Linked DNA regions of Homo sapiens: region 1 is linked to region 2. Evidence: fine-mapped expression QTL. A gene starts in region 2. The other region holds a variant in brackets. All regions are shown on one strand. Distances are between the middles of the regions.

Region 1 (5,371 bases), 20 kb before region 2:
CTCTTCTGAGTCCCAGCGGGGTCATGTCATAAATGAGTTGTGTCATTCCTCTAACCAAGAAGGAATTTGTGGTCTCCATTTTATTTTTCAGGAGATAACGCAAAGCGTAAGTGGAAGTAAGGGCTGTTAAGGCGTCCCACAGTGGAGCGGGGAAGATTCTTCACTGTGGACCCACCGTGGGATGTCATCATTCCTGACCCTGAGTCGGTTCCCCTCCGAGTCTCACCCAGCAACAAGCAGCCCTCCAGCCTTCAGAGGCACTGAATGAACATCGCTGCTGGGGATGCTCTTATGCTTATGTTCTTTTTCCCTCCTAATTTAAAGGGGATCTAAAAATGAAGTGTCTGGGAACCAATACACACAGCAATGAGAACTGAGATGTCAGGGTTTGCTCCAGACACAAACACAGAAGTAAAATACCTGACTGTGCAACCTGCTAACCCAGGCATTTGTGTGCTATTAGTACCCCAAAATGCAGCCCTGCCCGCTGGACTAAACTCCCACGCTCTTCACTCAGATCAGCAGGGAGAGGCCTCTTCTAGCTCCCGGGGTCCACACAATGCCATGCCCGTCCCTGTCCCCGGGGCACCTTGTCAGGCTGGGTGGGGCAGGCACACACAATCTCCGCATCTTCGGCCGAGAAGTAGTCATTCTTCAGCAAGTTGTCCACCAGACACTGAGTATTGCGGATGTGAGTGACCAGAAGTTCCCGATTGCTTTTCAGTAATTGAATGTGGGGGTGAGACTCTGATGGGATTATTTCCATCTCACTGTGGCCCTGCTCTTCCATAGTTAAAGTAGCAAGCGGCTACTTTTCCCAAATTCATCTTCAGCTGCGTGTGTCCTCTCAGCAGAAGGGCAATCAGGATTCAGGCCGCGCCCTCCAGGGCCCCTGCTACTCTGCGCAGCCCCTGAAGAGATCAATGACATCATCAGCAAAGCAAAAGCTACAGAAAGAGCTCACCCCACCTCCCACTGGTTGTGGGGTTTCTCTACCTAGAGCAGGAAGGAACCATGCTTAAGACCTTTATCTGGCCAGGCAAGTTGGCTCATGACTGTAATCCCAGCGCTTTGGGAGGCTGAGATGGGTAGATAGCTTGAAGTAAGGCCAGTAGTTTGAGACCAACCTGTGCAACATAGTGAGACACCCATCTCTACAAAAATAAAAAAAATTAGCCAGGCATGGTGGCGCACCTGTAGTCCCAGCTATTGGGGAGGCTAAGGCAGGAGGATCACATGAGCACAAGAGTTCAAGGCTGCAGTGAACGATGATCACACCACTGCACTCCAGCCTGGGTGACAGAGCAAGGCCCTGTCTCTAAAAAAACTTTTATCTTAGATGCATTAAAGAAAAAAAATCATAATTTAATTGTTTGCACTTGAGGGTTACATCTCTAGGGTAGGTGACCAGAGATAGCCAACTCTTTTTTATTTTTAAATCAAAACATCTTTATTATTACTATAAAGCAAAAGTGTGCTTTGATCCTATACTGGGATAGAGATGGAAAGGTGTTTATTTTACATAATAAGGTTAACAGGGCTTGGAGGTTTCTGCATTCCCCAAGCAGGGAACAGGCCCAGAACTGAGAAAGAAAGACCTGTGGGGTTTGGTGGGAGACGGTCTCAGCACAAAATAGCCTGAGAAGAGAGACAGCAGCATGAAGTCTCCTGTGGTAGCCAGAGGCAAGGAACCTGCGGACGGTGATGTCTCAGTCACTGTTGCCCATTTTGGGTTGTGCTATAACCTCTTCCCCCGTGTCCTTGACCTTCAGCAAAGTCTGTTATACACAAGCACCCTGGGAAAGGAGGGAAAAGCAATAGCCCATGTGGCATGAAGTGGGACAGAGGGAGGGCAGAGGGGCAGGAGGAAGAGGGAGAGCCGGCACAGAGTTCCTGGGATTAGATTCCCAAGAGAGGTATCTCTCTGGAAACCCTTGAAAACCTGGTACAAGTGCTGAGTTTCTTGTCTGGGTAGGAACAGGGACCCAGGCTATTTTATTTGGGCATTAAAAAACATTTGGGTTCATCTGAGTTATCCCAAAATTGCACTCACTACCTTCCTTGTAACAATAACAGCAAAAAATAATAATTTTT[T/A]AAAAAAATCCCACAGAAGATCCTTCAGCCTCTTCTTGTCCAGGAATACTTGCGTGTGTAAAATGATCTTGGAAGTGGAAAGGCCTGGAATTGGCCACTTTGTCGTTTGTCTAGGCAGGAAAACTCATGCATTTCAGAGAGAGAGTAAAAAAAAGGTTTTTTTGTAGTTCAAAAAAAAGCTCATAGATCTTTTAACACTATCCACATCATTAATATGTTTCACAAGCCACATCTGTTAACATTCAGGTCCAGTGGTTCTCAATTTTTTTTCCACCAAGTGGCACATGAGTCTCCTGCTCTTTGACATGCTTCTATGTTTTCTTTTTTTAACCTATCAAATGCCAGACCCCACACAATAGCTTTCTTTTTAGAATCCAAATGATAGAGCAGGAAAGAGTAAAATTTAAAATTATCAGCAACAGAAGGGCAAGAGATCCTCACCAAAAAAATTTAAAGGTATGAAAATATTAGTTATTGTTCCAATAAAAGTTATTAAATACTAATCCAGCCTTTTCTTTTTTTTTTTTTTTTGACAGAGTCCCACTGTGTGGCTCAGGCTGGAGTGCAGTGGCACAATCTCGGCTCACTGCAACATCTGCCTCCTGAGCTCAAGCAATTCTCCTGCATCAGCCACCCGAGTAGCTAGAACTACAGGCGGGTGCCACCATGCCCAGCTAATTTTTGTATTTTTAGTAGAGACAGGGTTTCACCACGTTGGCCAAGCTGGTCTTGAACTCCTGACCTCAAGTGATCTGCCCACCTCGGCCTCCCAAAGTGCTTGGATTACAGGTGTGAGCCACCACACCCGGCTATTTTCCATGGCAGTCAATTCTATGACCCACTTTAGGATCCTTAGCTTTAGAAAATCGGTTCATTTAAAGCATACCAGCTGACAATATTAAATTTAAATTAGCAGTTAATAATACCTTTTTAAGTTTCTGGCATCATTCTTTGAAGTTAGAATATTTTAAAACAACATTGTTTAAATCTTCAATTTCCAATTTATTTCTGGAATCTGCAAAATCAAAGAAAGACTTAAAAAAATTATTGTGGCACATGGTGAATGAATGAATAAAATTGGCAAGAGAATAATTTTAAAATCTAGTACTCCCAGGTATCAGACTACTCTCTGTACCTTCTTCTTTTAGGACAGTGTTTTCTAAATGTTCAACGTCCCCACCATAGTCACTTTTTTGTTGTTCTTGCCATAATTGAGTCACACCTGTCCTTTATTTGCTTAACCTTTTGCTTTCAATTGAGTTTTGAAAACTCTAATAATTTTAAAGGAATGTAATGTCACCATTAGAAACAGAAAAAAAATATCCTTTGCAATACATAGAAAGTAACACAAAAATTAATTCACCAGAAATACCACAATGTTACTGTATTCCAGCTAGTCCTGCTGCCTGGAAAGGCTCCAGGGTTGGGGCCTGTTTTCTCTCGGAAGCATTTGAGAGATGTTAAAGACACAGTAGCACAGAATTGAGACTTTCTCTTTAAGATCATCACAAGGCTGAGAGAAAACTGGAAAGAAGTCACTTCTCACTTTGTGATTCAGCATTTTGCAATGCCATGCTCCATTCTTTAGAAAGCTGGGAAGGGGTGTTGCACAGCTTCCTTCATCCCTCCTTTCCCGACCTTTGCCCGCCTACCACGAGGGGCCCGTTTTACTCACTGCTTCTGTCTCTTCCAAGCCTGCGATTCCCATAAAAACAGCAACTTGTCTTCCCAGATGTTTTCTGTAATCGCCGCCACAATCTCCACCTCTTGCCATCAAAGGCAGAAACCGAAGGAAAGTCTCCTGACTTACAATCACCTAAATAAAGCAATATATTATATGACAGCCATCTGGCAAGGAGGCTGCTTTATAATGTCCAGAGCCCTGGCTGAAGATTTAATCAGGTGTGCAGAGTTAGCTCAATTCAGCAAGAACTTAACAAGGTATGGATGTTGGAAGGGAAAGCAGAGAAACTGAACTCTGCCTTGGTAAACAGAATCTAAGGGTAGACCAAAACCATACCATGGGAGACTGGAGATCAATTCGAAGTTCATGGGCACTTATTACCAGAAACACCAGACAGCCAGAGATCTGCTGGCCCTGGGGGGCAATCCTTTCCTTTCTTTGCTTGGTAAAGGGTGGGTCCAGTTGATGAAGACGGTCTGGTCCTCTCTTCCAGGCAAAGAGAGGACGGAGATTGGGCTGGGGCCAGGTATCTGGGAGCTGGGTCTGCTCTCCTGGGTGGAGCTTTCCCAGGCCAGTGGTGCAGACCAATGGGGACTGAAGTTGGAGATCCTGGTAAGACAGCTCCAGGGATACCCAAAGGAAAAAACCAAGCTAATGGAGGCAGCCAGAAAACAGGACACACCGCAGAACAAAAGATGGATCACCAAGTGGAAAAATGAAGCAGAGGAGATCGGAGGAGGGTGAGTCCACCACCAAAAGCCATCTCCTGAGGCAAAGGCAGGTGGGGGTAGAGCCTGTGGGCAGTGAGGGAGCCCCGAAGGGAGCTGGGGGTTGCACAGGCATTTCCTCTCAACCGCTCTTCTTTCTAGCTTTCTGCCCTCAGAGAGGGTTAGTTTCCAGGGTAAGGGAATCCCAGGGGCAATTCACCACTCCGGGCTCCTCACAGAAACCAGTGCCCAAGTCCCCTCCTGCAATGTGATCTTCCAAACTAAAGAAAAGGTCTGCAGAGCCTCCAGGAGAAGATTCAGGGAAGCTGCTCTGGTGAAAAGGAAGCAGGGATTGCAGGATGGCGGATCTTCAAAGGGAAAAAGGAGACCATAGAGCAGCTCTGTTGAATTGAAATATGACACAGCTTTCCTAGTAATTTAAAACTTTCTAATAGCCACACTAATAAAAGTAAAAATGGACAGGTGAAATTAATTTCAATGATATATTTTAATTCTAATACACTCAAAATATTTCAGTATGTCATCCATACAAAATTTATTTATTATTATTTTTTGAGATGAAGTCTCACTCACTCTGTCGCCCAGGCTGGAGTGCGGTGGCGCAATCTCGGCTCACTGCAGCCTCCGCCTCCCAGGTTCAAGCAATTCTCCTGCCTCCGCCTCCTAAGTAGCTGGGATTACAGGTGCACACCCCCATGCCTGGCTACTTTTTGTATTTTTAGTAGAGACAGGGTTTCATCATATTGCCCAGGCTGGTCTTGAACTCCTGGCCTCAAGTGATCCTCCCACCTCAGCCTCCCAAAGTGCTGGGATTACAGGTGTGAGCCACTGCACCCAGCCCATCAACAAAAAATTTATTAATGAG
Region 2 (5,371 bases):
TAACTGACATGCCAGTGACTACTCACCTCTCACCACAAGAGTCAAGTTTAGAAACAACACTTGCCCTCAACGAGTATTTGATGCGCTAAAGAGTTTTTCCAGAAACCAGGTCAGACCTTTTGGATAAATCAAAGGAGGCCCCTTGTGTGACATGCAACTGACTGTCCCTAGAAGATAAAAGAAAATGGGACTTCTGAAAACTTGCAAAATACCTAGAGCCTCTGCATGACAAAAATTCAGCATAAGTACACATTTTAGCTTTTCTAATTTCTTCTTGCCTAAAAAAAATCCCCCCAATAATAAGAATGATAGAAGAAACTAGTAACTTAAACCTTAAATCCTACGTTCATATCTTAGATTTTGAACAAATATTGAATCCTTTTCTTTGAATAAGAGATAAGACTTTGATAGTCTTGTGTAAGCAAATATCAGTGATCACACATACACTAGAAAAACACTTGATCTTTATGCCTATATTACTTACTGTTTCTATTTCTGATGTCTAATCTAAACAGCACTGCTGTTAGGATCAAAGTGACCATCCATGATGCACAGAGCACGTACCAGGGTAAAGTTCCAGCTGGGACGCAGGCATCAGCAATTGTAGAATTTGGGTTCTCCCTTCCTCAGATCCCTGACTGTCCTTGGTCATTCAAGAAAGATTCACTGTCCCTAGGCCAAGAGTCAGGAGCAAAACAGGAACACCAAGGGTATGGTCTGAGGATGTTGTCAGCAGGGAGCAACGTGCGTGTGTGTGCACATACACTAATTCTGAGACACTGTGCACAGCCCAGCTTTCTTGGAAAGCCATTTAAAAGATATATATGTGGCAACAGAGAGGAGGAAGTCTCAAGATTAAGAACAGCTTTTGAGTGTGTGTGTGTCAAAATATTCATTCCTATCACATGCAGTAAAACTGTATTCCAGAGCCATTAATACGCCCTGGGGGACTGAGGGGATTTGCAGCCTAAGATTTCAGACTTAAAGCCCGCTAAGGCCCTGAGCGGGGCAGCAGGGCAGGAGAAGGAATGGAGCGTTGAAGGGAACATTTTATAGACATTCTCCCTCATAGTGGCTGTACTAAGTAAACAATTAACGGGCACAAACTGCCACTCCAGTGTCTAATAACTACCTCTGCCAGAGCACCTGCCAGCGCCACCACCTTCCAGGTGTGTGATGCACATCATCTCGCTGAACTATGCTAGCCTCAGGAGAGGGTTGCTCTTTATTTTACAGGTGGGAAAACAGGGGCTTGGAGAGGTCAAGGAACTTGCCCAAAGTCACAGCATAGAAGTGACAGAATCCGAGTTTTGACCCAGATTTGATGGGTTCCAAAGCGTGAACTTATTTCTCCACTCCACAAAAATAAAACCTACTCTTCTTACAATATTTGAAAGAGCCCTCTTCTACCACTCTGCTGTTTGTTTTAAACACAGCTTGCTTATCTGTCTGGCATATTCGGTAGAAGTCTGTACTTTGTCAATGCCTGGTTTGCCTGGATTTCAGCTACCTGGCCCCTGGCATCTAAGCCTGGGTGAGAACAGGGAATCCACTCCTCTCTAAGATGCATCGTGGAGTTACTCTTTTACTCTTCCCTGAAAGTGATAGTTCAATCTTCAACAGGGGCTTTGAGGGAGAACAAACTCGACCCTTTGGCAAGCACGACTTCTGGCTTCACCGTTTTTTTGTTTTTTGTTTGTTTGTTTGTTTTTGACGGAGTTTTGCTCTTGTTGCCCAGGCTGGAGCGCAACAGGGCGATCTCGGCTCACTGCAACCTCTGCCTCCCGGGTTCAAGCAATTCTCCTGCTTCAGCCTCCCGAGTAGCTGGGATTACAGGCATGCGCCACCACGCCCGGTTAATTTTTTTTTTTTTTTTTTTTAGTAGAGACGGTTTCACCATGTTGGGCCAGGCTGGTCTCGAACTCTCGACCTCAGGTGATCCGCCTGCCTTGGCCTCCCAAAGTGCTGGGATTACAGGCGTGAGCCACCGCGCCCGGCCCTGGCTTCACCCTTAAAGCAGAAAGGCCAGAAGTCATCAAGGCCATGGGTTTACTAGCTTAGCTTCCCCAGACTTAATTTCAAACACCAACAACCGAAATGTTTCCTAGAATGCAGAGCTAATGAGACATCAACCTCTGTCATTTCCTATGTTTTTCACAATGTGCCAAAACAACTGCACACATTGGAGGCGTTTTTGAATGTGATATTCAGGCGACCTTGCCAAGCATTGTCTCATTTCCTTACTTTGTGGAGCATGAAACCCAAGGGAAGTTCTCACCCTCTCTCCAGGACCAAGCAGGACACTGGGAGCTGCTGTCCCGTCTGCAGGCGGGACTCCATGAAGGCCCCTGTCTGCCCTTCCAGCCTTTGCCACAAACCCTCGAACGCTGGCTGCACACTGGAATCACTTGGGGAGCTTTTAAAAGATACGGAGGCCTGGGTCTGACTCCGTGAGATTCTGATGGAATTGATCTAGGGTGCAGCCTGGATATCTGGATTTTAAAAGCTCCCCAGGTGGTTCTAAGCTGCTGGCACGATTGAGAACCCCTGCGTTCGACCACAGTGGGATAAACGATTCCGCTGACTGTGAAGTTCATCCCTCTCAACTTTCGCTACATGCTTCAAACTCGCGGGTTTCTCCGCTTGGTTCCACCCAGAGCTCCTCCAGAGCCGCGCTGCGTTCCGCCCGCACGCAAATCCCGCCTCCCTGCGCCTCCTCACTCGCAGCGCCCAGGACCTCAGAAAGGGCCTGCCCCGCGCGAATCCCCAGTCGCTGGGACTTACTTGGCCACCAGGTTTACAGACTTCGCAGCCGCTGAGAGCTAGAGAAGAGCCCGGAGAGCGCCATGGTCCGGGGACGCCGGGGCCGGGAAGCGCCGTGGCCCGGGAGGACGCTGCTCCCGCAGTAGCGCGAGGGAGGGGCAGGACCGGGGCGGCTGCCTCGCGGGCCCGGAACGGGAACTGGCTGCGACTACAGCCGCAGCCGCGCCCCTCTGTTGGCGCGCCCAAGAGCCTGCCGGCTGCTGGGAGAGGCCGCCGAAGGGCGGGGGCGGTCAAGGCAGGGTCCCACGGTGCTGCCATTCGCCCGGGTCTGGCGCGGGGGGGCGAGAGAAGCTGCGCGCAGAGGGACGCCCGGTGCGAGAGGGTGAGCCCCTGGCCACCGCGCAGGGCCGAGTGGACAGGCCCAAGTTCGCCCAGAGGTGACACACTTGGGAATTTGTGGTGCCATCGTGCCAGGTCCCTCCTCGTAAAAGTGCCTACCCAGCGCCTGCAACCAGAGCCAAAGCCTGGACATGATAGGGAAACTCTTGTTAAAACGCGACACGTGGTCCTGATGAAATGGAGGTTAACGTAATCAAATTTAAATTACACTGCATACATTTCAATTTATACTTTTTAAAAAATGTAAGCTTTTCTTCCTATCCTTAAATTTGTTCTTGGCAGTGTACATTTTATGTTCTATGCATATGCTCTAATAGGTTGTAAAAGAGTTTTAACATGCTAATAAATGTCCCCAATAAAATAGTTTTAAAACGTTTTGAATGGGGATCGTGTCCATAAGGGATATCATGCTACAGAAAGTTGTCACTTACTCACACTGAAGAAGTACATTCAATCATATAGCCACTGATGCTTGTGAGTATTAAAATTCCCATCAGAGGCTGCCCTCTGAGAAACAGAAAGTATGTTCTTAAATCAAAAGTGAAAGTGCAAACTAAAGTTGATAGGATCAAATGTGCCAACTTGTGTCAGGCCTCTGAGCCCAAGCCTGCATGTATACATCCAGATGGCCTGAAGCAACTGAGGAATCACAAAGGTAGTGAAAATGGCTGGTTCCTGCCTTAACTGATGACATTACCTTGTGAAATTCCTTCTCCTGGCTCAGAAGCTCCCCCACTGAGCACTTTGTAGACCTTCCACCCCCCCGGCCCCCGCCTTGCCCACCAGAGAACAACCCCCTTTGACTGTAATTTTCCACTACCCACACAAATCCTATAAAGCTACCACACCCCTAACTCCCTTTGCTGACTCTTTTTTTCGTACTCGGCCCACCTGCACCCAGGTGAAATAAACAGCTTTATTGCTCACGCAAAGCCTTTTGGTGGTCTCTTCACACGGACACGTGTGACATTTGGTGCCGAAGACCCGGGACAGGAGGACTCCTTCAGGAGACCAGTCCCCTGTCCTCACCCTCACTCTGTGAGGAGATCCACCTATGACCTCGGGTCCTCAGACCAAACAGCCCAAGGAACATCTCACCAATTTCAAATCGGGTAAGCGGTCTTTTCACTGTCTTCTCCAGCCTCTCTCACTACCCTTAAATCTCCCTCTATTTCCAATTCCAGTTCTTTCTCCTCTCTAGTAGAGACAAAGGAGACATATTTTATCCATGGACCCAAAACTCCAGCTCCGGTCACGGACTCAGGAAAACAGTCGTCCCTTGGTGTTTAATCACTGCAGGGACACCTGCCTGATTATTCACGTACATTTCATTGGTGTCTGATCACCGTGGGGATGCCTGCCTTGGTCATTCACCCACATTCCCTTGGTGGCAAGTCAATTGTGGGTCGCCTGCTTTGGCTGCTCAGCCACATTGCAGCCCAGGGCTGCTCACCACCCCCCTTCTCCGGGTCTCTACCTTCTTTTCTCTGGGCTTGCCTCCTTCACTATGGGCAACCTTCCACCCTCCATTCCCCCTTCTTCTCCCTTAGCCTGTGTTCTCAAGAACTTAAAACCTCTTCAACTCACACCTGACCTAAAACCTAAACGCCTTATTTTCTTCTGCAATACCGTTTGACCCCAATACAGACTCAACAATGGTTCCAAATAGCCAGAAAACGGCACTTTCAATTTCTCCATCCTACATGAGCTAGATAATTATTGTCGTAAAATGGGCAAATAGTCTGAGGTGCCTGATGTCCAGGCATTCTTTTACACATTGGTCCCTTCCTAATCTCTGCTCCCAATGTGACTCATCCCAAATCTTCTTTCTCTCCTGTCTGTTCCTTCAGTCTCCACCCCAAGCTCTGAGTCCTGTGAATCCTCCTTTTCTATGGACCCATCTAACCTCTCCCCTCCTCCCCAGGCTGCTCCTCGCCAGGCTGAGCCAGGTCCCAATTCTTCCTCTGCCTCCACTCCCCCACCCTATAATCCTTCTATCACCTCACCTCCTCACACCCGGTCCAGCTTACAGTTTCGTTCCGCAACTAGCCCTCCCCTACCTACCCAACAATTTCCTCAAGGTTAATGCTCCTTTTTCTTTATCCAACCTCTCCCAAATCAATTAGCATTTAGGCTTTTTTTCATCAAATATGAAAACATAGCCCAGTCCATGGCTCTTTTGGCAACAACCCTTAGACACTTTACAGCC

Direction of the effects. Alleles are on the strand shown, and positions count from the first base shown. SD is a standard deviation of normalised expression in the study named.
As copies of A replace T in region 1, the expression in tibial artery of the gene that starts at base 2,963 in region 2 goes up (small effect, 0.23 SD a copy in GTEx).

What was found. PIP is the estimated chance that this variant, and not a neighbour inherited with it, causes the effect. A credible set is the group of variants that fine-mapping cannot tell apart.
Region 1: its variant is the best candidate, but not a certain one, in a credible set for the expression of NOD1 in tibial artery (GTEx, PIP 0.87).

The regions. Positions count from the first base shown.
Region 1 is chr7:30,456,132-30,461,502 of GRCh38, forward strand. NOD1 (nucleotide binding oligomerization domain containing 1) reads right to left here. Exons shown (of 14, transcript NM_006092.4): 2 at 3,770-3,910; 3 at 3,021-3,109; 4 at 590-911. The coding sequence starts at 790. Among named protein-coding and RNA genes, the nearest start is that of NOD1, 20 kb to the right of the region's middle. The variant T/A (reference allele first, on the strand shown) is at 2,095.
Region 2 is chr7:30,475,822-30,481,192 of GRCh38, forward strand. NOD1 (nucleotide binding oligomerization domain containing 1) reads right to left here and starts at 2,963. Exons shown (of 14, transcript NM_006092.4): 1 at 2,785-2,963. RefSeq lists an enhancer at 2,459-3,203 and a silencer at 2,852-3,091.